Homo sapiens: one gene and its partners. The protein of the gene in region 3 interacts with the protein of the main gene of each other region in a pairwise test. Each region holds a gene or a part of one and is shown on either strand. Other genes may lie near its edges. The genes, in order: RPL7L1, PIAS2, CCNDBP1 and ZNF394.

Evidence for each region.
Region 1: the proteins of CCNDBP1 (region 3) and RPL7L1 interact in binary tests that used the Homo sapiens proteins (3 or more experiments, as listed by UniProt).
Region 2: the proteins of CCNDBP1 (region 3) and PIAS2 interact in binary tests that used the Homo sapiens proteins (3 or more experiments, as listed by UniProt).
Region 4: the proteins of CCNDBP1 (region 3) and ZNF394 interact in binary tests that used the Homo sapiens proteins (3 or more experiments, as listed by UniProt).

What each region holds. Positions count from the first base shown.
Region 1 is NC_000006.12:42,882,604-42,889,638, reverse strand, and holds part of RPL7L1 (ribosomal protein uL30-like), read right to left. Parts: intron 6,189-7,035; coding exon 6,025-6,188; intron 5,027-6,024; coding exon 4,889-5,026; intron 3,666-4,888; coding exon 3,556-3,665; intron 3,384-3,555; coding exon 3,175-3,383; 3' UTR 1-3,174.
Region 2 is NC_000018.10:46,886,480-46,893,514, reverse strand, and holds part of PIAS2 (E3 SUMO-protein ligase PIAS2), read left to right. Parts: exon of another isoform or gene 1-84; intron 85-2,460; coding exon 2,461-2,935; intron 2,936-7,035. UniProt on the Homo sapiens protein: Functions as an E3-type small ubiquitin-like modifier (SUMO) ligase, stabilizing the interaction between UBE2I and the substrate, and as a SUMO-tethering factor.
Region 3 is NC_000015.10:43,188,400-43,195,434, forward strand, and holds part of CCNDBP1 (cyclin-D1-binding protein 1), read left to right. Parts: intron 1-794; exon of another isoform or gene 795-799; coding exon 800-881; intron 882-1,655; coding exon 1,656-1,752; intron 1,753-1,925; coding exon 1,926-1,999; intron 2,000-2,566; coding exon 2,567-2,643; intron 2,644-2,995; coding exon 2,996-3,276; intron 3,277-4,343; coding exon 4,344-4,404; intron 4,405-6,015; coding exon 6,016-6,062; intron 6,063-6,327; coding exon 6,328-6,442; 3' UTR 6,443-7,035. UniProt on the Homo sapiens protein: May negatively regulate cell cycle progression. May act at least in part via inhibition of the cyclin-D1/CDK4 complex, thereby preventing phosphorylation of RB1 and blocking E2F-dependent transcription.
Region 4 is NC_000007.14:99,492,710-99,497,286, forward strand, and holds the end of ZNF394 (zinc finger protein 394), read right to left. Parts: intron 1,923-4,577; coding exon 820-1,922; 3' UTR 531-819; downstream 1-530. UniProt on the Homo sapiens protein: May be involved in transcriptional regulation.

The DNA of each region.
Region 1 (7,035 bases), on a different chromosome or scaffold from region 3:
GGGATATAAGCCTTGGGCTTCCATAGTCACAACTGCTTTTTTGCATAACTTTGTAATACATCATTTTAAAGTAATCTGATTTCACAATGTTTTACAGTATAGGAGTAACATCTATAGCATCTCTTCTTGGCAGGTTACCTCTGGAGAGAACCAATCTAATTACCTCATACGCTGGCACTTTTTTTTTTTTTTTTTTTGAGACAGAGTTTTGCTTTTGTTGCCCAAGGTGGAGTGCAATGGTGTGATCTCGGCTCACTGCAACCTCTGCCTCCCTGGGTTCAAGCAATTCTCTTGCCTCAGCCTCCCAAGTAGCTGGGATTACAGGCATGCACCACCACATCCGGCTAATTTTGTATTTTCAGTAGGGACAGAATTTCTCCATGTTGGTCAGGCTGGTCTCGAACTCCTGACCTCAAGTGATCTGCCTGCCTCAGCCTCCTGAAGTGTTGAGATTACAGGTGTGAGCCACCGTGCCCAGCCTAAGCTGGCATGTTTTAAGGCAGTTACATCTCTAACTTGATTTACCAGCTATGCTTGAGGGTCCAAGGAGCCAAAATTGCAGCCAAACTGATCTTAAAGGACCAGGGAATAGAATGGTCAAGCATGTTTCCAAGTTTAACCTAGGCCTGGCACATCCTTGCCAATTGCTCAGATGGCAAGTGAGGGGCAACTAAGTGAAGAGAATAGCAGGAAGACCCACTTGGGGTGGACACTGATGAAAAACACAAGCAGTATCAGACTCACTGTTTTCAGGATTAAAATCCCCAGATGCCCTGTTATTGGTCTATGTCACTACCAGTAGGACAAAAGGCAATGCTTCTGAAGACTAGAATATGCAAGGAAAAAATTAAGGTGCCTGCCTGCCTGGGGCCTAACGAGCCAAACAGTGCTAATTTCATCCATGCCAAACAAAATTGTTCATTCCTTGCTGATTTGGGTTTTAAGGAACCATGCTGATCATCAGAGAAACCAGGCAATTCTATTCTGAAGCCCAGGGGAAGAAATGGTGGGGATTTCTGAGTTACAGATGGTGCAGGGGTTAACACTATCTGCCACTATGAAGGGAAAAATCTATCTTGGTAAACTTTGGTCTTCCATAGGACATGGAACCAGAGTAGCAAGATCAGGGCCTGCGTGACCGATCCTGATTGAGCAGGACTTCCTCACATAAGGTACACAAGAGCTGGGCGCAGTTGCTCATGCCTGTAATCCCAGCACTTTGGGAGGCCCAGGCTTGTGGATCACTTGAGGTCAGGAGTTTGAGACTAGCCTGGCCTACATGGTGAAACTCTGTCTCCATCTCTACTAAAAATACAAGAATTAGCTGGGTGTGGTGGTACATGCATGTAATCCCAGCTGATCAAGGGGCTGAGGCAGAATCACTTGAACCCAGGAGGTGGAGGCTGCAATGAGCTGAGATCATGCCACTGCGCTCCAGCCTGGGCAACAGGGTGAGACTGTCTCAAAGAGAAAAACAAAACCCATAAGATGCACAGGTATCTGAGAAGGGTCTAAACACCCTAGAACTGCAAGCAAAATTTTGAGTGTATACATGTTTTCCTGGCGAAGGGGTCCTCATTCTCAAATCCTGAGCTTTTAGGAAAAAGTACTAAGCCAGTTTCAGGTTACGATACAAAAGCCACCAGATACACTTAGAGCCAGTCAAGTTTGAGAATTCTCAAAGCCATCACTGAAAAGTTGGAACACATACTCACAGCAGAGACAAGTGAACATTTATTTTTATGCCTTTCTTCCTATGTGTATTTCAAGTCTTTTTCAAAACAAGGCCCCAGGACTCTCCAGATTCAATTATGTCCTTGGGCTTGGTCGACTGCTGCAGGAGTCTCAGGGAGCCTTCTACAAATGCTAGAGTGACTCATTTACCAACATTAAACCCTAGGATACATGCAACAAAGCAGGACTCCTTCCTCCATGGAATGTGCCGATTTCAGATGACACAGCACCCAATGCAGAAAACACTGGAATTTTTCCTTGGAACTCGACTGTGATGAGAGGTGCTTGACATGAACATATGCTACTGTCTTTTCTTTTTTTTTGAGACAGAGTTTCGCTTGTTGCCCAGGCTGGAGTGCAATGGCGTGATCTCAGCTCACTGCAACTTCCACCTCCCAGGTTCAAGCGATTCTCCTGCCTCAGCCTCCTGAGTAGCTGGGATTACAGGCACGTGCCACCATGCCCGGCTAATTTTTGTATTTTTAGTAGAGATGGCATTTCTCCATGTTGGTCAGGCTGGTCTCGAACTCCCAACCTCAGGTGATCTGCCCACCTCAGCCTCCCTAAGTGTTGGGATTACAGGCATGAGCCACCACGACCGGCCAGCTACTGTCTTTTCTTTGACCCTTTCCAGTTTCTGAAGATAAAGCAGGAAATAATCTTCTCTGAAGATACTTGATAAAAATTTCCAAAACAAAACACATGCTTCCACTTCACTGATAAAAAATTTACCGCAGTTTGGCACCTAAGAGTATGACAACAGCAATAAAAAGTAATTTCAAAGAGTTAAGATTTCTTCAGCAAAATAGATGATTCACATCTTCAAGTCCTTTTTGAAATCAGTTATTAATATTATTCTTTCCTCATTTCCATCTGAATGACTGCAGCAATAGTTTTTTTTTTTTTTTTTCCGAGATGGAGTCTCGCTCTGTCGCCCAGCTGGAGTGCACTGGTGCAATCTTGGCTCACTGCAATCTCTGCCTCCTGGGTTCAAGCGATTTTCCTGCCTTAGCCTCTCGAGTAGCTGGGACTACAGGCACGCGCCACCACACCCAGCTCATTTTTGTATTTTTAGTAGAGACAGGGTTTCACCATGTTGGCCAGGATGGTCTCAATCTCCTGACCTCATGGTCTGCCCGCCTTGGCCTCCCAAAGTGCTGGGATTACAGGCGTGAGCCACCGCGCCCGGCCAGCAATACAGTTTTTAGTTACTCGACATCTTTAAGCCTATAACTCTTAGGCTATGCATAGCCCCATGTCCTAATCAGGCATTCACTGATCCCAGCAGGTCTCCATCTATTTGTACCAGCCTCCTCTATTCCTCCCAATCTCAAGGTTACTCTTAAATACTAGTAAATGCAAAAAGAACTTGTAAAGTGGCAAGGCATGGCCTATCAAAAGTCAGCCCAAGGGCAGTTTTCAGCCCTGCCTCACCTGGGTCTAGTTCAGCTGACGGATGAGCTGATTGATGCGTTCACCCCGATAGCCAGGTGTGCCCATCTCCTTGAGGAAGCCCACTCTATTTTTGGTAGCATGACGGGCCACTGAGAGGTGGAAAGGGCACAAGAACCATGAGATCTCCTGGAAATGCTTCCCTGGGAAGGCAATTTCATGAATGAGGTCTTCCAAGCAAATGACGCCAAACTTCCCTAAGAAACACAAAAGCACAGATTCCTTTATTTAACATGTATCCAGCATATACTAAGCTGGCCACTCTGGCAGACTCTTGGGGCCCCAAGAAGAATACAACCTGAATCTCACATCAAAGCTTCAAAGACCCTGGCTTTCTGCCCCAGCTGATCCCTAAGCTGTAGCACTCACCCAGGTGCTCCTCAATCACTGTATTGTCTGTCAGAGGGATGGTCTTATTCTTGACCTTGGCTTGTCCACGTTTCAAAATGAGTTCTCGGACAGACTTCAGATTTGGAAATCTATGTAGGAAAATAAAGCACGGTTTTCACCAGCACCTGGCACACTACATACCAGTCCTGCAGCCTGGCTGAGAGGTTGGAGAGGTTCTCCCACACACTCACTTCTCCCAACGAGCAAGTGTTCTGCAATCACATTCCAGCTGAAATGCTTGGAAATACTCCTGATAAAGAACTGAAGTGACCCCACTTACATAATTAGAAATTTAAATTTATGGATGTAAATGTTCACCAGGGAAAATATTGCCAACAAAAACAAAACAGAAACCATGTCCTAGCTTACCTTAGGGGCTACGACTCTGGCCTTAGGTGACCCTCTACTCAAGATGGTGCAAGAGTTGGAAATAAAATCCAAGTTTTTGTTGGGTTTCAATGTTTGAGGAATACTACTCTTTTTTTTTTTTTGAGACGGAGTCTTGCTCAGTCTCCCAGGCTGGAGTGCAGTGGCACGATCTCGACTCACTGCAAGCTCCGCCTCCCAGGTTCATGCCATTCTCCTGCCTCAGCCTCCCAAGTAGCTGGGACTACAGGTGCCAGGCTAATTTTTTTTGTATTTTTAGTAGAGACGGGGTTTCACCATGTTAGCCAGGATGGTCTCGATCTCCCGACCTCGTGATCCACCGTGTCTGGCCTTTTTTTTTTTTTTTGAGACAGAGTGGATTGCAGTGGCACAATCTCAGCTCACTGCAACCTCTGCCTCATGGATTCAAGCGATTCTCCTGCCTCAGCCTCCCAAGTAGCTGGGAATACAGGCACACATCACCATGCCTGGCTAATTTTTTTTGTATTTTAGTAGAGACAGGGGTTTCACCATGTTGGCCAGGATGGTCTCAATCTCCTGACCCTGTGATCCACTCCTGACCGTGTGATCCACCCGCCTCGGCCTCCCAAAGTGTTGGGATTACAGGCATGAGCCAGTGTGTCCGGCCAGGAATACTACTCTTACACATGCACTGCCTTTAGCTCTGCTTTAAGACTTTCAAGAACCAAGCTTTCCTTGACCCAGCCTTAGCCTATGACTGAACCAGCCCTACTATGGTATTGTTCAGACCCCTCCCTACCCTGTGTCCCATGGTTATTACAGCTACCCACTGATTTCAGGTTGACTGTGGTCACAGCAAAATGTCCCTTCTACAGCAACATGAGCCCTGGAAAGCAATACCCGGTGCACCCTGACACACTCAAATAGAAATCTAATGTGAATTCACATGGAAAACCTTACTTACCCCCAGGTCACATAAGGTTCCACTATACGCAGCATTTTTAGATTCTGGGGGGTGACTTTTACAAAGACACCACTAAAAATTTTCTTTAGGCGAAGTCTTGCAATGGTTCTCTGCACCAGTAAACTCACGCCGTCAATCCTGAAATGAACAGCAACAGAAGTCAGACAGACTCCCTCCAGTTTATGTCAGTCCAGCAAGCACAACATGCGAGGTCACTACACTGGGTAATCTGGAATAAGACACAGAGACTATGCCTTAAAGAGCTCAGTTTAGTGGGAGGCGGTTATGAAAACAGATCCTTTTCATAATGTGGAGCAGTGCCTGGAATGCTATGGAAATTGAACTTGTGTGTGTTTCAGGGGTAGGCGGAGTGGTGGTATGTAGGTCTACACATGTCCAGCTAAGGAAGCTGGATGTGCTTCTATGGGCAGTAAAAGCTACTGAAGATTTTAAGCAGAAGAGACCAGACCAGATTTCTTTCTGACAATCACCAAGGGCAGTGTATGGGACAGATCACAGTATGACACTAGAGGCAAGGAAATCCAGGAGGAAGGTTAATACAATAGTTCAGGAAAAATATGAGCAGTGGTAGAGGGCTACAAAGGACAGAGCTCATAAACATGCAAAATCCACAGGTTTCTGGTTTGGGTGATTGGGTAGGGGAAACAGCAAGAAGTAGAGTTGTACATGGGGTGGGCAGGGGGTTGGGAAAGTTCCACTAAATGAGGAAAAATGTCTCCCCTTCACTGAATATGCTTCATCCACTCAGCCTTGTTTCAGTTCCTAGAATGATGCCTTGCTTTCCCTACCTCAGGACTTCAGCACGTATGCCTGAAAAATCTCCCAACACTGGTGAACGCCTTTCACATCTTTCAGGTCTCAGGTTGAAGTTCCTGCTTTAGAGAGGGTGTCCTCAACCCCTCTCCCTAGTGAGCACTTTACCCTCATAGCACTTATTTTCAAGCCTATCTGTCTAAGGTCTTCCAAATATTGCAGACTAAATTGTGCTCAACCCTGACATCCTAGCACAATTTGCCTGAGTGGCTTGGGGCATATTATCTCCCTAGAAAGGGGTCTAAAGCTTAAGCAACACTTTGCCCCAGCCTCATGCAATTAGAAAGACACCAGTTCCTTACCTTTCGATGCGTACAACAAAGGCCAAGGAATGTTTATCTGGCAATTCCAAGGCATGAGGTTTCACTTCTAGTCGTCTGAGACGCACCTTGTCACGTTTCTGCCGCCAGGAATCATGTAGGAATGATTCCAGTCGCTTAAACCTGAGCCCTTTTCCTTTCTTCTGCTACAGAGAAGACAGACCATCATCATCATCTTGTGCCTCCATACATTTTTACTTTTAGAACAGTAATTCATAAGTGACAACTGATATAGCTTATTTCCCCGTGTTCCACAATGCGAAGCAAAGCAACATTCTCTATTTTCATATAAAGGAAAAATGAGAAACCAAAGTAAAGGTGGAGTTGAGGAAACTTGGGAATTATTGGGAAAAATAACGAACAAAAAATTAGTTTACATATTAATCAGTGTTTACTAACAAGTTTCCTTAAACTCCACGCCAGCATTTGCCTGCAGGTGTTAAATATTTGCTAAATGAAGACATAAACCATATACACTTGGTGCTCTGCATCTGTGATTCAACCAACCCCAGATGGAAAATACTTTGGAGGAGCACATACAGTAGCTCACCCTGTAGTCCCAGCTACTTAGGAGGCTGAGGCGGGAGGTTCTCTTGAACCCAGGAATTCAAGGCTGCAATGAGCTATGATCCTGCCACTGCACTCTAGCCTGGGTAACACAAGACCTCACTCCTTGTTCTTTTTTTTTTCTGAGATGGGGTCTCGCTCTGTCGCCCAGGCTGGAGTGCAGTGATATGATCTCGGCTCACTGCAACCTCTGCCACCTGAGTTCAAGCCATTTTCCTGCCTCAGCCTCCCAAGTAGCTGGGATTACAGGCATGCGCCACCACACCCGGCTAATTTTTGTATTTTTAGTAGAGACAGGGTCACCTTGTTGGCCAGCTTGGTCTCAAACTCCTGACTTCAGGAGATCCACCTGCCTCAGCCTCCCAAAGTGCTGGGATAACAGGCATGAGCTACCACACCTGGCCAAAGACCCCACTTATTTTTTTT
Region 2 (7,035 bases), on a different chromosome or scaffold from region 3:
ATTAACATCCTTTGCCAAATAATGTTATCACTGGAAATATGAGATATGAGACCTCCTAGAAATTCCTCTGAGAGTCAAGCTTAGGTAGGATGACTTTGTGCTTTGTTTTGTCATTTCTGTAAAATAGCTTCCCTTAAAATGAAGAATATCTGACAATAAGTATAAGGAGTGAAGCAAAGTAGTGAATTCTGAGTTAGAAAAAATCAGTTATGTTTTATCTGTGTGATTGCCTTTTTTAGTATTAGTGTTCCACAATCAATTGAAGTATTTACTAAGATTGAGGGAAAGATGCATCGTATTACTTGCTTGGGTAAACCCTTCCCAAGAAGCTGTTGTCTTCTGTTTAATGCATGAGATGTTGAGTAAGCTGTGACTGGTTTGTTATGAGATAGGCCAAAAGTTTTCTTGTTTTCCTTCTTTGTTGTCTGCACTGTAGAGGTAACACACATTGTGGTATGTGTTCTATTAGAGTATGATTTAGAGCTACCACAGTGTGGTAGCTAGTGGCCACATGTGGCTCTTAAGCACTTGAAATGTGGTTAGTCCAAATTTAGATGTATTGTAAGTGTAAAATATACACCAGATATTGAAGACTTAGTATAAAAAAAATCCCACTGACACTTTAAAAAATGATTATTTTTAAATTACAAAAATTGATTGCATGTTGAGATGAAAAGATAGTTTTGATATATTGGGTTAAATAACTATGTTAATGTAAATTATCATTATTATTATTATTATTTTTGAGACAGTCTTAATATTGCCTAGGCTGGAATATGGTGGTGTGATCACAGTTCACTGTAGCCTCAAATTCCTGGGCTCAAGTGATCCTCTCGCCTCAGTCTCCTGAGTGGCTTGGACCACAGGCACACACACCACCATGGCTGGCTAATTTTTAAATTTTTGTGGAGACGGGGTGTTAGTATGTTGTCCAGTGTGGTCTCGAACTCCTGGGCTCAAGTGATCCTCTTGTGTTGGCCTCCAAAAGCACTGGGATTATAGGTGTGAGCCACTGTTCCTGGCCTAAATTAGTTTTTTTAATGTGACTACTAGGAGGTTTAATGTGTGTCTTCTATTAATTTGTGTTGGACAGCACTGAATTAGAGTATAAAATGGCTTGCCAGGATTACAATTTAATATTCTCTCACTTGTACATTATGAAATATAGAGACATATATAGTACACAAAGTACAGTTATGACAGTGTATATGGATTACTTTGGCATATTTAAATCTGTTTGCATTTTAGTAAACTAGCAAGTATTTATACCAACAAGTATTTAAAAACCATATAGGGTTTTAAACAGTTGCTTCTGGGCCGTCCCTGAGACTTAAAAAGTACAGAGCAACTGCCCCACATTTCCACTATACTGATGAGACAAGCAGGTTGAAAAGGAATCCCAAGTGACTGTGGAGTGTGTAGCACGGGCTGGGTTGGGGGAGTGATGAGGATGGGATGGGACACCAAACCACAGGTAGTTCTCCTGGGTAGGTTTCTGACAGGGCTTTGGTCAGCTCCAGGTGTTCTTCCTCTTTCTTGCTAGATGATGCATGTGTGGTATCTGACCCAAGTGTGATTTGCCTCTGAGTTCAGAATTGACTGGAAATCACTAAGTAGGTGGATTCCTGAGGCTGCAAGGGGTTAAAAATATTCATTAAGTTTTGCTGAAAAAATAGAAGGTGTGATGTGAAGCTGCAACTGCTTATAACCTTTGTTTTACGCCCAAGCACAAGCCAGTAGAGTAGTGTGGAGGAAATGTTGCCCTTTAAGATTGATGACTGCTCATTTCCTTGCTCTTCAAAGGTCTTTTTCTCATTTGGATACCCAGCTGGGAATTTCAGTTGTTTTAGAAGTTTGACTGCTAAATAAGATGTATGTGATTTTTTAGCTTTAATATTTTAAAATATCTTTATTATGTTGTTTGTTTGTTAATGTTTGAATTGGGGTAAAAAATTCATTGCATTTTGGATCACAGTTCTGACTTGATTTTTATGGATTTACTACTCAGCATCAAAAGTTACACATCTAACATTGTGAAAATCTGATTTTTTGTTTGGTTAATTGGCGATAATTCTGTAACAAACATTACATTGTATATTGGGAGGGGTTGGTTTTGAAAAGGAGTATATTCATTGGTGATAGATTTTATAGTCATAAAGCAAATAACTGTTTGCATTAGAGCATAATCAGATAATGAAGTGGTTAGTAGAAACCAATAGACTATAGATTACCAAAATTAAGATCTTGTACAACAAAATATAATTAACACCGTAACTTGAATGTAATTTTTACGGGATTGTCTTATGAATGGTAATGATTCTAAGTGGTATGTGAAATGCTGTTACTAGCACATGCCAATTGATAGAATGCTGGAAAAATCACATTTTACATTATATTTTAGATAGGATTTTTGTATGCTTGAGGGTGACTTGGCTTATGTTTTTTTTTCTTTCCTTTTAGAATATGGTTTCTAGTTTTAGGGTTTCTGAACTACAAGTATTACTAGGCTTTGCTGGACGGAATAAAAGTGGACGCAAGCATGACCTCCTGATGAGGGCGCTGCATTTATTGAAGAGCGGCTGCAGCCCTGCGGTTCAGATTAAAATCCGAGAATTGTATAGACGCCGATATCCACGAACTCTTGAAGGACTTTCTGATTTATCCACAATCAAATCATCGGTTTTCAGTTTGGATGGTGGCTCATCACCTGTAGAACCTGACTTGGCCGTGGCTGGAATCCACTCGTTGCCTTCCACTTCAGTTACACCTCACTCACCATCCTCTCCTGTTGGTTCTGTGCTGCTTCAAGATACTAAGCCCACATTTGAGATGCAGCAGCCATCTCCCCCAATTCCTCCTGTCCATCCTGATGTGCAGTTAAAAAATCTGCCCTTTTATGATGTCCTTGATGTTCTCATCAAGCCCACGAGTTTAGGTAAGTGTTTGAGAATTCAGTTTCTTCTGAACAAGATAGTAAATGAAATGAGAGACCTTCAACTATTGATTAATGATGTGCTGTTAATATAGTGAAATTGAGGCATCAATGCCGAATGTTTGAATATACGGATAAAAATTCGGCAACCATGACTGAAATCTAATAGAAGCTTTATTTCATATCATTTGATCTTTCTTCTTCTCCAATTCTTTTATTGTAAAATACACATAATATAAAATGTATCATCTTGATCATTTTAAAGTGTACAGTTGAGTGGTGTTAAGTATGTTGGTAATGTTGTGCAGCCATCACTGCCATCCATCTCCAGAACTCTTTTCATCTTCTGAAGCTGAAACTCTGTACCCATTAAACAATAGCCTTCCTCTCCTCCTCTCCCACTAGCCCCTGGCAGTTACCATTCTACTTCCACTGTCTATGATTTTGACTATTCCAAGTACCTCATGTCGTTGGAATCATACAGTATTTGTCTTGTGACTGGCTTATTTCACTAAATGTAATGTCCTCAAGGTTCTAGCATGCTGTAGTTTATGTTAGAATTTCTTTCCTTTTAAAGGCTAAATAATACAATAGTATACATTTTTAAAGAAAAATAGTAATCTTTTGCTCACTCCACTACTCATCCCTCAATCTCACTTTCAAGAGGCAACAACCTTAATTATTTTAGCTGTTTCTTCTGGTTTTACTTCTATATTTCTGTGTTATAGGATACCACATTTTGCTTATCCATTGGACACTTGGGTTGCTCCCACATTTTAGCTATTGCGAATAATTCTGTGGACACGGGTATACACGTATCTCTTTGAGACCCTGCTTTTCAATTCTTCTGGCTGTATACCCACAAGTGGAATTGCTGGATCACATAGTCATTCTGTTTTTAGTATTTTGAGGCATCACCATACTGTTTTCCGTGGCAGCTGCATTTTACATTCCCTTCAACAGTGCACAAGGGTTCCAGTTTCTCCACATCCTTAACAACACTTTTATTTTCCTTTTTTTTTTATAGTGGCCATTATAATGGGTGTCAGGTGGTATCTTATTGTAGCTTTGATTTGCATGTCTGTAATGATGGTGATATTGTGCATTTTCATGTGCTTTTTGGCCATTTATGTATCTTTCAAGAAATGTATAGCCAAGTCTCTTGCCCATTTTTGAATTGGTTTGTTTTATTGTTGTTGAGTTTTAGGAGTTCTCTGTATATTCTGGATATAATCCCTTATCAGATATATGAATGTGCAAATATTTTCTCCCACTCTGTGGTTTGCCTTTTTTACTCTGTTGATAGTGTCTTTTGATGTACAACTTAACATTTTTTCATGAAATTCCAATTTGTTTATTTTTTGTTGTTGTTGCCTATGCCTTTGGTGTCATATCCAAGAAATCATTGCTAAACTTCATGCTGTGAAGGTTTTGCCCTGTGTTTTCCTTTAAGAATTTTATAGTTTTAGGTCTTACATTTAAGCCTGATCTCTTTTGAGTTAATTTTCGTATATGGTATTAGGTGAGTGTCCAGCTTTGTTCTTTTGTTTGTGGATATCCAGTTTTTCCCCACCATTTGTTGAAAAGCCTGTCCTTTCCCTCACTGAATGATCTTAGCACCCTTGTCAAAAAGTATTTGACCATGTATGTGAGGTTTTATTTCCAGGTTCTCTGTTCCAAGGTCTCCAACCCTCAGGCCGTGGACTAGCACCAGTCCACAGCCTGTTAGAAACCAGGTCGCACAGCGGGAGGTGAGCAGCAGGAGGTGAGCAGCAGGAATTCGAGCATTACAGCCTGAGCTCCACCTCCTGTCAGATCAGCAGTGGCATTAGATTCTCATAGGTGCAGGAACCCTACTGTGAACTGTGCATGTAAGGGATCTAGATTGCATGCTCCTTACGAGAATCTAATGCCTGATGATCTGAGGTGGAACAGTTTCATCCAGAAACCATTCCCCTGGCCTGTGGGAAAATTGTCTGCCATGAAACTGGTCCTGGCCAAAAAGGTTGTGACTGTTGATTTATTCCATTGGTCTAGATGTCTGTCTTTATGCCAGTATCACAGTTTTGATTACCGTAGCTATGTAATATGTCTTGGAATCAGGAAGAGTGAATTCTCCAGCTTTAATTATTTTGTAAGATTGTTTTGGCTATTTGGGGCCCTTGAGATTCCACGTGAATTTTAGAATGAGTTTTTCTATTTCTGATAAAAAAAAAAAATTGGGATTTTGAGAGGAATTGTAGTGAATCTGTAAATTTGTTTGGGTAGTATTGATATCTTAGCAATATTAAGTCTTTCTTTTCCCACATAGGCTGATGGGGAAAAAAAAAATTAAGTCTTCCAGTACATGAACATGAGCTGTGTTTCTATTTATTTATGTGTTCTTTAATATCTTTCAGCAATGTTTTATAGTTGTTATTGTACAGGTTTTCATTTTCGTGGTTAATTTTGAAATATTTTTTCTTTTTGATACTATTGTAAAAACTACATAATTTCCTTTTCATCATATTTATTATTAGTTTATAAAAATGCAATTGATTTTTGCGTGTTGACTTTGTATTCTGCTACTTTACTGAATTCATTTATTCTAACAGGTTTTTTGTGTGAAATCTTTAAGGTTTACTGTATATAAGAGCCTACCATCTGTGAACAGGAATAATTTTACTTCTTTCTTTTCTGTTTGTATGCCTTTTATTTCTTTTTCTTGCTTAGTTGCTCTGGCTAGAACTTACTCAAGCATTCTTATGGTGTAGAAATCAGATTGCTTCCGTGTGAATGGGAATAGATACAAATCTTATTTATTGATCCTGATTTTGTATTTTGATACTTTTCATATTTTTATAAAGGGACTTACTTTCCATTTAATGTAGCTTTTAAACTGATTTTCTAAGAAATAAACCTTTTATATTTAATTTTATTTCTAAAGTGGCACAGGGAGTTTGACATGCAGTTTTTTAGCTTTTATTTAATGCCCATCAATTGCTTACAATGTGACTAACAAATTTTTGCATTGCTGTGTTATAATTCTTACTGCCTAATGAAGTTATTTACAAATATATTTGAATTTCTTTATGAAATAAATTGGGAAGTAACATTTCATAGTTGATGTGGAAGATTGCTTTCTTTTCTTTCTTGGGAAAACCCTTTTTATTTTCAGTCATGTGAAAACACTTAAACATATCAGTGTGCTTTTTTACCTGTCTTACAGGATTGTACTGCAGCCTGTCTTGGTTAAATCGGAAGGTTTTGAGGGGTAGAGCTAGTTAGTGGGGTTAGTATGGCCTGACTAGTGGCAGGCAATGTGGCTATTTTTTTTTTTTTTTCAATTTTTTGCTTTTTGCTTTATTTATGTTTTAGCAAAACTGGTGATCCAAGCAAGTGGAGTATTGCATTTTATCTCTTTATTACGTTCACTTTGAAATAAGGATTGAGTGTTTGTTCATGTTTTATTATTTGTTTGTACAAAGTCCTATGAGTAGAATTATTGGATCAAGTAAAAAGAACGTTTTAGACTCTTGATAACATATTGCCAAATTATTTTAGTGCCAGTTTAAATTCCACAAGCAAAGTGAGAGAATGCTTGTCATATCTCATTACTTTTTGCCTTTACTGGGTGCTATTGAAAACAGATCTCTGTGATTTTTAGATGAAAACTTGTATCTTGCTTAAATTTTTATTTTTAAAATTAGTAACAGGAGCAAGTATTTTATTTTATTCGATTTTATTTGTTTTTTTTTGGAGGGGGGGGACAGAGTCTTGTTCTGTCGCCCAGGATGGAGGGCGGTGGCGCTGTCTCGGCTCACTGCGGCCTCCACTTCCCCGGGTTCAAGCAGTTCTCCTCTCTCAGCCTCCCGAGTAGCTGAGGCTACAGGCATGTGCCACCACACCGGGCTAATTTTGTATTTTTAGTAGAGATGGGGTTTCGTTACGTTGGCCAGGCTGGTCTTGAACTTCTGACCTGAGGTGATCCACCCGCCTTGGCCTCCCAAAGTGCTGGGATTACAGGTGTGATCCACTGCACCTGGCCAACAAGAGCAAGTATTTTAAATGCTTATTACCCGGTTGTCTGTCTTTTATGATTTTACTTTCATCTTTAGCCTTGT
Region 3 (7,035 bases):
CCTCTCTTTTCTGTAAAGGGCCAGTTAGTAAATATTTTAGATTTTGTAACCAACTACCCAACTCTGCCCTTATAGAGCAAACACAACTACAGACATTAAAACCAGTGAGTATGGCTGTGTCCCAATACACTTCATTTCCAAAAACAGGCAGTGGGGCCTGACTTGGCCTGAGGACCACAGTTTGCCAGCTCCTGGTCTAAGATATCATGAATATCTTGGGATACAGAGTATCAGGAATAAGTTTTTTCCTGCTGTTTCTTAATGGTTTATTGAGTTGTCAGCCCAATATCTACTATATAGCTAACTCCTCCCTGGTATGTGATGAGTATAGTAGGCCTGCCTTCATACCAGGACTTCAGAAAATGTTTGATGATGCTGTAGAAATATCTGCCCTAGGCCGGGTGCAGTGGCTTACACCTGTAATCTCAGCACTTTGGGAGGCCAAGGGAGGTGGATCACCTGAGGTCAGGAGTTCGAGACCAGTGTGGCCAGTGTGGCAAAACCCCATCTCTACTAAAAATACAAAAAATTAGCTGGGTGTGGTGGCGGGTGCCTGTAATCCCAGCTACTTGGGAGGCTGAGGCAGGAGAACTGCTTGAACCTGGGAGGTGGAGGTTGCAGTGAGCCAAGATTGCGCCATTGCACTCCAGCCTGGGTGACAGAGTGAGACTCTGTCTCAAAAAAAAAAAAAAAAAAAAAAAAAAAGAAAAAGAAAGAAAAGAAAAAGAAAAGAAATATCTGCTCTATTCCACAGCAGAAGGGTTGACCACTTTGATCTAATCTGTTTCCTTTTTCATAGGAAACCCAGAAGTTCTGTGAACAAGTCCATGCTGCCATCAAGGCATTTATTGCAGTGTACTATTTGCTTCCAAAGGATCAGGGTAAGCCACATAAGTGTTGCATTTATCGTGTAGATCTTTGCTAATATTGTGGATTATGTCTTGTGACTTTTACCTTTACCCAACTTGAACATGTAACTTTCTCCCATAAAATACAGTGAAGGATAATTTTGTAATGTAAGTGACTTATATAAACAAGCCATTATTCTAAGATACAGATGCTTTGTTCCTATGACTTCCCATCTCCCCTGCCTTGCCTGACTCATAAGGCTTTTAATTCTCACAGCCTTCTCCCTCTTCAACCCGTTTTAACACCACAGATACTGGCTGGCTCTCAGCCCCATATGCAGGCTCAGGCCATCCTTACTTTCCTCCACCCATGTTATATCTCACCCTATTTCTGAACATCTGCATAGGTTAAATGGCCTCCAGCCCTGCCTGTAGAATCATGCATTGATTATAATCATGCCAAAATTATAACTGAATACATGTCATGGATCTTCAGGGTTACTCAAGTGGCTTAAACTTCAAGTGTTTCATCTACAGTTGTTAAGAGATCACGGTCCTTAATGAATGAATACATGGTGTCACGGAAAGATTTTGTTCCAAATCTCTTTTGAAGAAAACACTAAGGAATGGCAGGAGGGGCAAGAAAATGCCATGGGGATATAAGTAAGACCTGAGTTTTGTGTTAGCATGTAGGTTAAAGCATGTGGGTGTACATTACCTTATAGTTCTGTAATGCTTAGACTCAGGAAAGCAGATGGTGCTTCTGAAAAGAACACCAGGTTGCTTATTCTTTGGGTTTGGCCACAGGGATCACCCTGAGAAAGCTGGTACGGGGCGCCACCCTGGACATCGTGGATGGCATGGCTCAGCTCATGGAAGTACTTTCCGTCACTCCAACTCAGAGGTAGTGATGCCACAGTTTAGGTTACCAGTTATTGGGGTTCCTTGCCTCAGAGGGGAAAAGCTCATTTTAACAGCAAAGTTACTGACAGCTGAGAGTAATGACCAGCAGGAAGAAGCTTTTTAGGAGACAGGAACCTAGGTTATTAATATATCCTTACTGATTTCTTTCCCCAGCCCTGAGAACAATGACCTTATTTCCTACAACAGTGTCTGGGTTGCGTGCCAGCAGATGCCTCAGATACCAAGAGGTGAGTGAAAGTGGGCAGTGGGCCATGTCTGCTGGCCAAAGCAAAGAGACCTCATGTCTAGCTTCCAGCTTTGTAACATGTATTTGAATTTATATAAACAGTCTAGTGAAATATATATATTTTATTAATGAAATTAATAGGTAGGTATTAATACTTTTTGTCATTCTCTAGTTATCATACTTCTAAATTCCACTCCCCCTTGCTGTGGCTGTCTCTTGTTGAACAAGTATGGTTTGTTTTCCTAGTCCTACCCCAAGAGTAGTATTATGGAGCACACTGAAGCAGTTATGAGGTAGAGACAGCTAGGCCAAAACAGTGGTTGTCCAAGAGGACCATGATGATAAACATCATGTGACCATTTTATTTCTTCTTGTGAATAAAATACAAGCTTTTTAAACCCCTATCTAGATACCAGGGGATGTAGTGAGAATTTTTTATTAAACCCGCACCCTTGTCAACCGTCCTTGGCACTCCCATCAATAGGAACAATGTGATTGTTCCTTGCAGTCATAAGAAAATTGTTGGATTTCTCCTCTAATTCTAGTGCTTCTGATTTTTCACTCATAGATAACAAAGCTGCAGCTCTTTTGATGCTGACCAAGAATGTGGATTTTGTGAAGGATGCACATGAAGAAATGGAGCAGGTGAGGGGACCTCCATCATTGGAAGGCAACTCCTTGACTAGTAGATGAGAATTAATTATAAAGAGAGATTTCCTGAGCATTGACCAGATAGGTCCCATTCTCACTACTGTCCTCTGTCTTCCATCTCCCACTGCTTGTTAGTGTTTGATTTAGTACCACTCCTCTGTGTTCCCTTACTGGACAAGGAGAGCGAGAACAGGGTTTATGAAGTGATTCAACTCTGTAGCCCTTAGTGAAGTGGCTGGCTAAGATTTTTGGACAACTAAGACATCGTGGTAAAAGTATAATAATAGGCCTCGCCTTTTTTTTTTTTTTTTTTTTTTGCATTCACATACATCATGGTATGTCTTAGGCTGTGGAAGAATGTGACCCTTACTCTGGCCTCTTGAATGATACTGAGGAGAACAACTCTGACAACCACAATCATGAGGATGATGTGTTGGGGTTTCCCAGCAATCAGGACTTGTATTGGTCAGAGGACGATCAAGAGCTCATAATCCCATGCCTTGCGCTGGTGAGAGCATCCAAAGCCTGCCTGAAGAAAATTCGGATGTTAGTGGCAGAGAATGGGAAGAAGGATCAGGTGGCACAGCTGGATGACATTGTGGATATTTCTGATGAAATCAGCCCTAGGTAAGCGGGATCCCCACTTGAAACATCTGAGCAGCAGCGTTCTGATTTCAATTTGTGTTGTCACCTCAAGGTTTTCACAGTTTTTTTATATTTTGAAATTTTTCAAACCTATAGGAAAGTTTAAAAAGTACCTTCAGTGAACACCCCTATATCCTTCTATTAGATTTGCCTGTTGTTCACATTTTTTCCTATATTGGTTTATTTCTCAAGAGATACTGTTTCATATTTATTCCAGAATGTTTTGAGAGTAAATTGCAGACAGCAATGACATTTCACCCCTAAATACTTCAGTATGTATCTCCTGAAGTACTCTTATTCCTACTCTTATTATCACATCCAAGAAATTTGACATTGAATATAATAGTATTATCTAATATTCAGATTTCCCCAGTTGTCTGTATCTAAAATGTCATATAAATTCAGGGTTCTGTCAAGGTCCCACATTGCATTTAATTGTCATCTCTTTAGTCTCTTGAAATCTAGAACAGTTCCTATCCTTTGTAGTCTTTTTTAATCAACATTTTAAAAAGAAACCAGGACAGTTGTCTTGTAAAATATCCAACAACCTGGATTCACGTGATTGTTAGTTCTCATTTTTGCAAGAATATCATATAATTAAGTGTTTTGTACATCTCATTTTATCATATTAGGGAGGCACATGATGTTGGTTTGCCTCATTATTGGTGGTACTAAATTTGATCACTTAAAGTGGTGCTCACTTTAGTAAAGGTATATTTTACTCTAATTTTAGCTTCCACTGATGAAGGCTGCCTGCCTATATTAGTTATTAAACTGATGGTTTCACATCCTCACATTTTTGACTGAATTGATCATGCACCCTACTATGAACCAAGGGAATTTCCCCCCCAGCTTCCTAGTGAAATGGGGTATGGTTGTTTCAATAAAGACTGGTTGAACTCATTCTGTATTGGTTGCCCAGTTGCCCAATTTTAAAAACTGACAGGCATTTCTGGGACAGTTTCTCACTGTTGACATCCATAGTTGTGTACTAGAAACAACCTGGCTGCGTTTTTTTGTTAATGATTACTTTTGTTTTCTGCTCTTAGTGTGGATGATTTGGCTCTGAGCATATATCCACCTATGTGTCACCTGACCGTGCGAATCAATGTAAGTACTGGCTTTGAGGGAATAGCTACAGAACAAATGGGCAGAATTTCACTAATCACTAGTATTTCCTGTAAGCTATAGGGTACATATTTATTAGTCACATTTGGATGGAAGTACAACAGTAATGTCACAGTTCTTGCATGCGTTTGGGGTTGATAAATATTCACTGAAGTTGAATTATAATAGCCATGAGCTTTGGTAGTTCTCTCTTCCATAATCACCTGGGTAATCATTCAGAAAAGCCCAAAGGCCTTAGAAAATGATGCTTTAAGGCTGGGCGCGGTAGCTCACACCTGTAATCCCAGCACTCCAGGAGGCGGAGGTCAGGAGTTGAGACCAGCCTGGCCAACATGGCGAAACCTTGTCTCTACTAAGAATACAAAAATTAGCCGGGCATCATGCACCTATAATCCCAGCTACTTGGAAGGCTTAAGCAGGAGAATCGCTTGAAGCCGGGAAGTGGAGGTTGCAGTGAGCCGACATCGCGCCACTGCACTCCAGCCTGAGCAACAGAGCAAGACTCTGTCTCAAAAAAAAAAAAAAAAAAAAAAAAAAAAAAAAAGCTTCTTTGAAAAGAAAGTCTTAATTACACGGTAATTTAGGAACTTCTCAACTTGAAGTCACAAGTTTCTAATTTCTAGACTAGGCAGCAATTAGATTGAACTTCAGCTGTTCATGAAGTAGCTGGCTGAGGTCACATGTTTCTGATTTCTAGACAAGGCAGAAATAAGTGTTCCAGAAACATACTCTGTTCTAATACAAACACATTGTGTGATTTAACTATGGAGAGTCAACTTTCTTATAAAAATCTGATTTTATTGTATTCTTTGAGGTTCTGTGCCCTTTACTAGAGAGAGTTCTGTTCTCTCTAATGTTATTGGAAAGAGCAGTAAAACTGCCAAATGGCTTATATTTTACAATTGAATGTATCAATTCTAGTAATATTTGATAAATTGGATAATGGAAATTAGATTCATCAGATGTGTCTTCATGATGTATAAACACCTTGAAGTAGAATAGGATCCTTTTGGGCATTAACATTTTTTTGGCATTAACTTTTAAAAAATTGACTTCCTAAGAAATAAACATTTTTAGCAATATGCCTAGTCAGCTATCCCAAACATAGTATCTGCTCTAGCAATTTTAAAATGTGTACTGCATATGCATCTTATATGTATTGATATTTTATATTAAACGTCTCCATCTTATCCTTATATTGGTGTTCTTAAAATTCTTAATGCGCTTTTTTTTTTTTTTTTTTTTTTTTTTTTTTAAAGGAACCTTAGTCATTTCTGCTTTATATTTTGAGCTATCAGCATTTGGGACCAATTCAGGTTACATTTTCCTTTTTCTGTCCTTTTTTAAATTGAAAATATTTTAGATCTAAAAAATCTTATTAAAATGTTATAGCAATAGTATTAATAAGATCTTGCTAAATAGAAAAGAACCCGTAATCCTGCCACCCTAACCTAATCAGCATTTTAAATTTTGCATACTTCCTTCAGGTCCTTTTTCTAAATAATTTTTTTATTACTTGGGTCTTTAAAAATATTTGAACTCACCTTTTTATGGTAGGGCTCAGGGTGAATAACTTCTGTGTTTCTTTTCTAGTCTGCGAAACTTGTATCTGTTTTAAAGAAGGCACTTGAAATTACAAAGTAAGTATGAAGACTTCTCAGATAGCTTTTTGTGAGTAAAACGGAACTGCTGTCCAGACGTTCTCAACTCCCTAGCTCCCATTTCAAGGAGTGGGAAAGGGTGGGTGTGGGATTTTCTTTCAGCTTCAGTTGTGGGGCAGCTGAGATTCTGCAAAGAAGCTTCCCTTTAAAAAAATTTTAGTTTTCCCTGTGCTCCCTCCTGAGGATAGGTTTTCCCTTGACATCCTAATAAGTTTAACTTACTTCTTTCCTATTCTATTCACAGAGCAAGTCATGTGACCCCTCAGCCAGAAGATAGTTGGATCCCTTTACTTATTAATGCCATTGATCATTGCATGAATAGAATCAAGGAGCTCACTCAGAGTGAACTTGAATTATGACTTTTCAGGCTCATTTGTACTCTCTTCCCCTCTCATCGTCATGGTCAGGCTCTGATACCTGCTTTTAAAATGGAGCTAGAATGCTTGCTGGATTGAAAGGGAGTGCCTATCTATATTTAGCAAGAGACACTATTACCAAAGATTGTTGGTTAGGCCAGATTGACACCTATTTATAAACCATATGCGTATATTTTTCTGTGCTATATATGAAAAATAATTGCATGATTTCTCATTCCTGAGTCATTTCTCAGAGATTCCTAGGAAAGCTGCCTTATTCTCTTTTTGCAGTAAAGTATGTTGTTTTCATTGTAAAGATGTTGATGGTCTCAATAAAATGCTAACTTGCCAGTGATTAAATGAGTGCCCTTCCAAAGTTTCTTTTTACCAGAAATACAGTGGATTGAGACTAGAACATTGCTTTCATTTGGGTTTGTAGGTTTAAAAATCTGATTCTAATCAGAAGTATATTTAGAACAAAACACTTTATTTATAAAAGATGACTCCAAAATTCATCTTAGTATTTCACCATGTTATATATTATTATCAGCAAGTCCTTCTGAATATTATCACAGATTACTCCATGTCTCTAAAAT
Region 4 (4,577 bases), on a different chromosome or scaffold from region 3:
CTTTGGGAAGCTGAGGCAGGAGGATTCCTTGAGCCCAGGAGGTTGAGACCAGCCTGGGCAACATAGCAAGACCCTATCTCTTAAAAAAAAAAAAAAGCTGGGTGTGGTGGTGTGTGCCTGTGGTCCCAGCTACTCAGGAGGTTAAGGCAAGAGGATCACTTGAGCCCAGGAGGTTGAGGCCACAGTGAACCACGATCACACCACTGGGCTCCCGCTGGAGGGCTACGACGAGACCCAGTCTCAAAAATAATACATAAAGGTAGAGCGCAGATAACAAGGACAGAACCCCGTTACATGTCAGCCTGGCTCTTATCATCAGAAGTCTCTTACCTGGCATCAGCTCACATTTCAGAAGGCCCCCTACTTCCTCATTCCTCACTCACTGAAACTATCAGTCTGTAATGAGGCTCAGGACAGATTGAACCTATCTTGTAGGAGATACTCAAGGAAGATCCATAATTGACTGATATACTCCAAATGGCAAGGAATGTGGTTCTGGACAAGAAAAGAAACAGGCCAAGTCACATAGAAACATATCAAAATGACAGCACTTTATTTCTTTTTTGAGATGGAGTCTCGCTCTGTTGCCCAGGCTGGAGTGCAGTGGCATGATCTCAGCTCACTGCAACTTCCGCCTCCTGGGTTCAAGTGATTCTCCTACCTCAGCCTCCCGAATAGCTGGGCTTACAGGCATGCACCACCATGCCCGGCTCATTTTTGTATTTTTAGTAGAGACAGGATTTTACCATGTTGGCCAGGCTGGTTTCAAACTCCTGATCTCAAATGATCTGCCTGCCTTGGCCTCCCAAAGTGCTGGGATTATAGGCGTGAGCCACCACGCCCAGCCGACAGCACTTTATTTTGATGAATTCTTTGGTGTCGGATAAGGTGTGTACTTTGTCTAAATCTTTCCCCACATTCAAGACATTTGTAAGGCTTTTCCCCAGTGTGAATTCTCTGGTGTTTAATGAGGGTTGCACTCTGATTGAAGCGTTTCCCACAGACGGAACATCCATAGGGCTTCTCCCCAGTGTGGATTCTGTGGTGTTTAAAGAGGTCAGAGCGCTGTTTGAAGCTCTTCTCGCATTCTTCACACTTATAGGGTCTTTCCCCTTTATGTAGTCTCTGATGTCTAAAAAGGTTGGAAATATGACAGGTTTCCCCGCATTCCTCACATTTAAAATGTTTGTCTCTACTGTGGGTACTTTGATGACGATTTAGGTGTGAATTCTGCCTGAAGCGCTCCCCACATTTCAGACAGGTGTACGGCTTCTCGCCTGTGTGTGTCCTCTGGTGCTTGGTCAGGGCAGCACTCTGGCTGAAGCTTTTCCCACATTCTTGGCAGCCATAGGGTTTCTCACCTGTGTGGATTCTCTGGTGTCTAAAGAGGTCAGAGCGTTGTTTGAAACTCTTCCCACAGTTACCACATTTATAAGGTCTTTCTTCATGGAGCTGCCTCTGGGTCTCAAAAAGGCTGGAATGATGGAAACTGTCTCCACTGTCAGACTTGTGAGGTTTCAGCACGTGCCACGTCACCATGTGGAAACTTTGCTTGCACTTGTTCCCGTGTTCCTCACTGTCAGTGGGCCTCTCTGCTTTCGGGATGTGCTGACATAGAACAAGGTTGGAACACCTGGCACTGTTCTGCAATTCATTATTTTTAGAGTCTTCCCCTTCTATGGAACCATTCTTATTGACATCTGAGATGCTGTTGAGTCCTTCTGCTTCAGGAGAATTTTCAAGTTTCAGGGGCAAGGGGTCTCCGGACTGCTTTTCCACCCTGTCCTCATGGGTACTGCCACACTTAGAAAACAGGGGGCGCTTCCCCTGGAACGCTTCTTGTAGTTGCCCCTGTGGCTCCGCTTCTTCTAAAATTTGTTGCATTGGAATCAACTCTTTGTTCTCCACTCTGCTTTCCAAACCTGAAACGTGAAAATACAAATTCCTGCCAGTGCATCCCTGTGCAACACAGAAATAAGCAAGTGCTGGCAGAATGTTAAACCCTCAAACCCCTTTTACTTTTTAATTAATTAATTTATTTTTTGAGACGGTGTCTTGCTTTGTCACCAGGCTGGAGTGCAGTGGTCCGATCTCAGTTCACTGCAACCTCTGCCTCCCGAGTTCAACTGATTATCCTACCTCAGCCTCCCAAGTAGCTGGCATTACAAGTGCACGCCACCACACCCAGCTAATTTTTGTATTTTTATTAGAGATGGGGTTTCACCATGTTGGCCAGGATGGTCTCTATCTCTTGACCTCATGATCCGCTCGCCTCAGCCTCCCTATTTATTTATTTTGAGACAGAGTATTACTCTGTTGCTATTTATTTATTTTGAGATGGAGTCTCACTCTGTTGCCCAGGCTGGAGTGCAGTGGCATGATCTCGGCTCACTGCAACCTCTGCCACCTGGGTTCAAGTGATTCTCCTGCCTCAGCCTCCCAAGTAGCAGGGATTACAGGTGCTAATTTTGCTAGTTTTAGTAGAGACAGTGTTTCACCATATTGGCCAGGCTGGTCTTGAACTCCTGACCTCGTGATCCGCCTGCCTCGGCCTCCCAGACTTCTGGGATTACAGGCGTGAGCCACAGCACCCAGCCTATATTTTATTTTATCGTATCTTATTTTATTTTTGAGATGGAGTCTTGCTCTGTTGCCTAGGCTGGAGTGCAGTGGCATGATCTCAGCTCACTGCAACCTCTGCCTCCCAGGTTCAAGTGATTCTCCTGCCTCAGCCTCCCAAGTAGCTGGGATTACAGGCACCCACCACCACACCCGGCTAATTTTTTTGTATTTTTAGTGGGGACGAGGTTTCACCATCTTGGCCAGGATGGTCTCGAACTCCTCTGACCTTGTTATCCACCCCCCTCGGCCTTGCAAAGTGTTGCGATTACAGGCGTGAGCCACCACACCCAGCTATTTTATTTTTTTGAGATGGAGTTTCGCTCTTGTTGCCAAGGCTGGAGTGCAGTGGAGTGATCTCAGCTCACTGCAACCTCTGCCCCCCAGGTTCAAGCAATTCCCCTGCCTCAGCCTTGAGAGTAGCTGGGATTACAGGCAACGTGCCACCACACCCGGCTAATTTTTGTATTTTTAGTAGAGATGGGGTTTCACCATGTTGGTCAGGCTGGTCTCAAACTCCTGACCTCAGGTGATCCACCTGCCTTGGCCTCCCAAAGTGTTGGGATTACTGGCATGAGCCACTGCACCCAGCCTATTTATTTTATCTTTTTGAGACAGAGTCTCACTCTGTCACCCAGGTTGGAGTGCAATGGCGTGATCTCGGCTCACTGCAACCTCCACCTCCCAGGTTCAAGTGATTCTCCTGCCTCAGCCTTCTGAGTAGCTGTAATTACAGGTGCCCATTAACTGGCCTGGCTAATTTTTGTATTTTTAGTAGGTATTTTAGTAGGTATTATAGTAGGTATTTTAGTAGGTATTATAGTAGGTATTTTAGTAGGTATTATAGTAGGTATTTTAGTAGGTGTTTTAGTAGACGGGGTTTTACCATGTTGGCCAGGCTGGTCTCGAACTCCTGACCTCAAGTGATTCACCTGCCTCGGCCTCCCAAAGTGCTAGGGTTATAGGTGTGAGCTACCTCGGTCTCCCAAAGTGCTGGGATTACAGGTATGAGCCACCACACCCGGCACAAGGGAGCAATTTGAGCAAAGCCCTGAAACTTTGCTTCCTACAGAGTAGAGTAGAATATTCCAGGCAGAGCGGTCACATAGCACAAAGACCAGGAGGCAGCGGGGCCTGGCATATTTTGGAGCAGCAAGGCAGTGTGGCCAGAGCAGGCAAAGGGCAGCAGAAGGGATGGGTGGGTGAGCAGGGTGCCAGGGCCCCTGCACATCAGGCATCAGAGGTCCGGCTAATTTTTGGTATTTCTAGTAGAGACGGTGTTTCACTATGTTGGCCAAGCTGGTCTTGAACTCCTGACCTCATGATCTGCCCACCTCGGCCTCCCAAAGTGCTGAGATTTACAGGCCTGAGCTATCACGCCCGGCCAAAATGTATTACTATTTTTTTTATTAATTTTTTTTTTTAAAGAGATGGGGTCTCGCTATGTTGCCCAGGCTGGTCTTGAGCTCCTGACCTCAAACAATCCTCCCATCTGGGCCTCCCAAAGTGCTAGGATTACAGGTGTGAGCCACCGTACCCAGCCAACAGCAAATGTTGACAAGAATATGGAGAAAGAAAAATTATTAGTATTGCTGGTGGCATATACATTAGTTATGGGCTCTTTGGAGAGCAAGATGAACATACAGTTGTTCCCTCTTCTCTGTGGGGACACGTTCCAAGTCCCCCAGTGATGCCTGAAATTGTGTATAGTACCAAAGCCTATATATATATGTGTATATATATGTATATACATACATACGTGTGTGTGTGTGTGTGTGTGTGTGTGTGTGTGTGTATATATATATATATATATGTATATATATATATAAAATGTTTTTTCTTTTTTTTTTGAGACGGAGTCTTGCTCTGTCACCCAGGCTGGAGTGCTGGAGTGCAGTGGCACGATCTCGGCTCACTGCAACCTCCGCCTCCCAGGTTCAGGTTCACGCCATTCTCCC